Linked DNA regions of Homo sapiens: region 2 is linked to region 1. The links come from fine-mapping of genetic effects on gene expression. A gene starts in region 1. The other region holds a variant in brackets. All regions are shown on one strand. Distances are between the middles of the regions.

Region 1 (2,500 bases):
CTTCCGAGAACCAATCAGTGGGGTGGCTGCAAGAGGCCAGGGTCTCAGGAGGGAAGGGACAGCTCGCCCCTTACCCAGGAGGCCCTCCCAGCCAGTGCGCAGCCGGCGCGTCTCACCTGCACGAAGCCCCAGAGCGGGTGGAGCGCGCAGTGCAGCAGCAGCGAGGACCAGCAGCAGCCACGGCGCAGCACCAAGTCCCGGAGGAGCATCTCGGCCAGCGGCGCCCGCTCCTGGGGCGAACTGTCAGGAGAGCAAGGCTAGGGTCAGGCGGACACCGCGCAGGCACTTCCGCCGCCGCGCACCAATATACCTCCCAGCCCGGGTCGGACGGGCACGCCCCGCACCCAGGGGCACCCTAGTAAACCAAGCCTGCACTTACACTCCAGCTTACACCTTCACTGACTCTTCGTCAGTCCCAGAATTCACACTCTTCTTACGCACATCCCCAGAGCCCCGCGTGTACACTTTAGCTCCGCGCACAGCTCCAGAATACTGCGTGCATACCTTGGCCCCATGGACACCTCCAGAAACAGCCAAGCACACTTACTGCGCCCCATTAACCCCCATACAACTCACTCTCACTGTGAGCACACTTCAAACCCGGCGGGCACTACTCACCTGCGCGCACAACCACAGAAACAGCCGTGCACACACACTGATCCCCGTGCACACCCACCGACTCCTGCCTGCACCCTCGCTGACCCTGCATGCACGGCCCCAAGAAATCTCACGCTGCCTGCACCCACACTGCCCAGCCGGCCTCATTGCGCACACTGCAACATAGGCACCTCCGTGCGCTGCCCCTTTGCACGCCTCCGCCCAGCCCCGATCTCCCGCTCCCGGGCGTGGGTTCCCCCACGCCTCCATCTCCGCCCGCACCCTTCCAACGCCTCACGCTACCTTGCCTGGCGGCGGCCCCAGCCGACCCTGGGCTCGGGGAAAAGAGGTCCGCGTTCCCCCCGCGGCAGCTCTGTTTCCCAGCAGCCGGACAGCCCCCATTTAAAGCCAGCCGCCTCCCCAGTCCCCCGCCCTCTAGGCGGGGCCTCCGTCCTCACCTTGGCGGCTGCGCGGGCGCCCGGGGGCTTCACATGCCGGGGAGGAGCGCCCGGCGCTGGAGCAAAAGTTTGCGCGCCGGTTGGGCCTCCCGGGCCGCTGAGCAGAGGACCAGGAGCGGCGTCCTCGCACGGGGCGCAGGGCGCGGTGGCTCCGGACTGCGCCTAGCCGCGCGCGGGGCGGGAGGGGCGGCACCCCGCTCCCAGGGCCAGGGCTGGCCGCCGAGGCGGAGGCAGAGGGCGGGGAAAGTCTCCTCCACGCCGCCTGGAGCCGGCCGCGCGAGCCCTCCCCGGGCCCGCGTTGGCTCCCCGCCTTTCCTGGTGGCGCCGCGCGGCTGCCCGGGGCACTGGGGTGCCCGAGCTCTCTACTACCCTCACGCTGGCCCGCGAGAGGCAGCGGCGGGAGGCGCCGGCAGGGAGCTCCCGCTGGGGCAGCAAAGCCGTGGGTGGAGGCGAAATAAATAATCCACGAAAAAGGAAAACAGACGTGAGCCGAGCCAGAGCCTCTCCCGCCTCCCGCCCGGGGTTGCGCTCCCCCCGCCGCCGCCGCCAGCGCCGCTGCAGTGATTCCTCGTCTCCATCTAGCGAGGCTATTGTGTATTGGGCGCTTAATTATTTATTCACCCTGGAGGCCGAGGATTCCCACTTCCATGGGGTTTTGGCCCTTGCCTGCGCTTCCCCCAAGCCTCTCCCGAGGCTGCGGAAAGGTGGCGAGGACTGACTTGAGACCCTTTTTTGCGCTCCATCCTTGAGGACTCTCCCCGCCGCACTCCCCGCAGGCTCTCCCGGGCGCCGGGGCTGAAAGGTGCAGGCCGCCCCTCTCCCGGCCATGGGCCTTGTCCTCTCCTTTGTAGTCCCAGCAGCAGAAACTCTCTTGCAACACTAGGCTGCGGCTGGGAAGGAGTTGTGACGGCCCTGGGGAGAACATTTCTACCACTGCTCTTCCTCAACCATCTGCAAACTCCTCTGTTTGAGGCAAGATTATCAACAAGTCGGTTCTTCGGGAGGTAGCCTGGTTGCATCTCTTTCAGACAAGCTGTGCCTAGCAGCATCACAGGCATGGCGCGGCCTCTCTGCTCTTGTGGTGGAAGCACTTTGCAAGCGCTTTGACTGATGGGGGCGCCTTCCAGAAGGCCCTCAAGGCCTGGACAATCCTATTTTTAGGTTGGATGAGAGAACCAGGGGCTTAAGACACAGAGCTGAGGGTCAGATACTACAGTGCATGCATGGAAGAAACATTTACTGAGCACCTTTTCCCGGTATTTGGACACCCTTAAGCCACTCATGTAAACACACACTATAAACGCTGGTTTGCAGAGTATAAACTACCTTGCAAGCCAGCTTTCAGAACAACGTCTTAGCGGCCTCCTTCATGCCAGAGCGCCGCCCCGAGGCTGCAGATTGCACCTCAACCAGCAAGATGCAGGGACAAATGTGAATGAGACCTT
Region 2 (3,015 bases), 74 kb after region 1:
CACATAATCTAGCTGGCCTGGAAGATTCCTGGAGTCTATGTCTAAAAGGTGACATTTGAGTGGGGATCTGAAGGATGATGTATGTCCCCAAATTCATGTGTTAGGAACTCAATTCCCAGTGTAACAGTATGGGGAGCTGTGACCTTTGGGAGATGATTGAGTCATGAGGCTCCAGCCTCATAAATGTGATTAGGTGCCCTTATAAAAGGGCTTGACAGAGGGAGTTTGCCCCCCTTTCACTCCTTCCATTCCCTCCACCATGTGAGAACACAGTGTCCCTCCCTTCCAGAGGATGCAGACACAAGGCACCATCTGGAAGCGCAGAGCAGCCCTCGCCAGACACCAAACCTGCTGGCGCCTTGATCTTGGACTTTCCAGCCTCCAGAACTGGAAGAAAATGAACTTCTGTTCTTTATAAAGGACCCAGTCTCAGGGGTCTTGTTATAGCAGAACTGATGGATGAGACAGATGAGTAGCAGCCTGACTTGGAGATGGGGAACACGTCCTGGCAGATGGAGCAGCAAGAGTTGCTATTGCCTGGCAGCAAGTCCAGAGCTGCCTCCAGTGGGCATGGCCAGGCCTCCCATCCAGCTCTCCTTCCTCCTGGAGCTGACATCTGGGTGACAACGTCCACCTTGAGATCCGTGAAGACACTCAGATTCTAGTCTGACTCTGTTCCCTCCGCCACGTAATCTCTCTGATCCTGTTTCCCATCTGGAAGAGTCAGGAGGGGGTTAATTCCTGCCCTGCCAAGTTTCTAGGATTATCATGAAGATCAAGTGGGATAATGCCTAGAAAAGAGTTTCATAAACCAAGAAGCACCAAACAAATATTATTTAGATTGCAGTCTTGCTTCTAGAAGCCGAGCCAGTTGCCTAAACAGAAAAATTAAATTTACGAAGAGGATCTGAACTTTCCCTCTCATATCCCCAGGCCTCCATTAACCATGGAGAGGCAAAACCTTCTTGGTCTATCTCCTTCTAGAGAGGTGATGGGTGCAGGAGAGAAAGAGGGGAGGGTGTGAAATAAGGAGGAGATGGCTTCATCACAGCCATGGATCGTGAGGAC[A/T]GTTGTTCTTTCCAGCTAGTCTGTGTGTGGGGTCAGGCCAGGCTCAGACCCAGCTATGAAGTCACCAAATAGGATTTTCTTTGCTCTCAGATTTGGCTGTTTTCCTTTTTTTTAACATCTTGCCAAGGAAACCAGCTCTTGGAAGATTCTGCACTACTTCCACCCTGCAGAGAAGGGTCTGGGTCTTTTTCTCAGGTGCCCCCAGTGCTTACGTGGCTGTCATCCCCTCTGGTCCTCCGTACCCTGGGATGCAAGCAGGAATGCCACTCAGAGCTCCAGGGGCCTTTACCAAGGATCAGACTATCAGGTGAAGGGAGGAGAGTTGACCAGCATGGAGCAGATAGGGGTGGTATTTAGTAGGAATGGTGGTATGGCATTCTAAGACTGCTGAGCTTGTCCAACTTAGCTCATTATGGATTTCCATTCACAGAGTCTAAGGAGTGGTCCCTAAAACCTATAAACAATGCTATCATCCTAGAGAGCAACCGACAGTGGTCTGAGTGGGACTGTCAAGCTTGAGTGTGCCTGCCCTTCGTGTACAATGTTAGCCTAAGAAACTCAGGTTTGTAATTTGTCAAGAAAAAATTGGAAGGCAGTTGAGGAAAAATCTATCATAAGCTAAAGCCTTGGCAGTTGTATCCAGCTGAAGGTACCAGGGAGCAGGTGTGGATGGTAGGAAACTGAGACAAAGATCCAAATACCTGGGGCCCTAGCTCATGGTCTGAGGGTGTGGGGCAGGGATACAGACCTGTAACAAAACAGGATGGATGTTGTAATAGCAGATGTGTTCAAGGGTCTCCAAGACAACCCTCAGGTTTGATGATTTGCTAGAGGGACTCACACAACTGAGAAAAGTTGCTGTATTCATGGTTATGCTTTATAACAGTGGAACGACATAGATTAAAACCAGAAAAGGGAGAGGGTGCATAGGGTGGAGGCCAGGAGAGAGCAGGGACAAGCTTCCAGTTGCTGTCCTCCAGGGGAGTTTTACAGACAATGCTTAATTCATCTAGGAGCAATGTGACACCACACATGGAGAGCTACCAACAACGGAAGCTCCTGAGCCTCTGTGTCCTGAGCTTTTACTGAGGGTTGGTCGTGTAGGCATGGCTGACCACCTGCATGGCTGACATTACTTAGTCCCCAGCCCCTTCAGAGGTCAAACAGACACGTGTGGCTAGAGGCCTGCACCAGCAATCTCATTGTTAGCATGGACTATCTGGCATAGGCCCTGTATTAGTAAGGGTTCTCTAGAGGGACAGAACTAATGGAATATATATATATATACTCCCATATATATATGGGAGTTTATTAAGCATTAACTCACATGATTACAAGGTCCACAATAGGCCATCTACAGGCTGAGGAGGAAGAAGAGCCAGTCTGAGTCCCAAAACTGGAGGACTTGGAGTCTGATGTTCAAGGGCAGGAAGCATCAAGCACAGGAGAAAGATGTAGGCTGGGAGGCTAGGCTGGTCTAGTCTTTTCACGTTTTTCTGCCCGCTTTATATTCTAGCCAAGCTGGCAGCTGATTAGATTGTGCCCACTCAGATTAAGTGTGGCTCTGCCTTTCCCAGCCCACCAACTCAAATATTAATCTCCTTTGGCAACACCCTCACAGACACACCCAGGATCAATACTTTGCATCCTTCGATCCAATCAAATTGACACTCAGTATTAACCATCACAGGCCCAAAGACACTATTATCAGGCAAGATATTCTAAAGGCTTAGAGGTTATCTCCTAGGAGCTGGCCCGGGGACAGATATCTCTTTGGAATGCATAGGGTGTGGATAATCCAGGTCTGCTGAGCCAACACTTTACTGCACAGCAAAACTCCAGAGAACTCATGAGGAGCCTGATTTATTTGTGATTGTGGGTAAAACTAGGTGGGAAGAGTGGGCAGGAGAGTAACCGGCCTACCTAGTATGATGTCTATAGTGTAAT

Direction of the effects. Alleles are on the strand shown, and positions count from the first base shown. SD is a standard deviation of normalised expression in the study named.
For the expression in aorta of the gene that starts at base 976 in region 1, allele T in region 2 goes with a higher level than allele A (small effect, 0.22 SD a copy in GTEx).

The links. PIP is the estimated chance that this variant, and not a neighbour inherited with it, causes the effect.
Region 2: its variant is fine-mapped to the expression of PRIMA1 in aorta (GTEx, PIP above 0.99).

What each region holds. Positions count from the first base shown.
Region 1 is chr14:93,787,510-93,790,009 of GRCh38, forward strand. It overlaps PRIMA1 (proline rich membrane anchor 1), which reads right to left and starts at 976. Exons shown (of 5, transcript NM_178013.4): 1 at 901-976; 2 at 117-240. The coding sequence starts at 209. RefSeq lists enhancers at 342-1,053, 1,054-1,767, 1,768-2,479.
Region 2 is chr14:93,861,375-93,864,389 of GRCh38, forward strand. No RefSeq gene overlaps it. Among named protein-coding and RNA genes, the nearest start is that of FAM181A-AS1, 63 kb to the right of the region's middle. The variant A/T (reference allele first, on the strand shown) is at 1,069.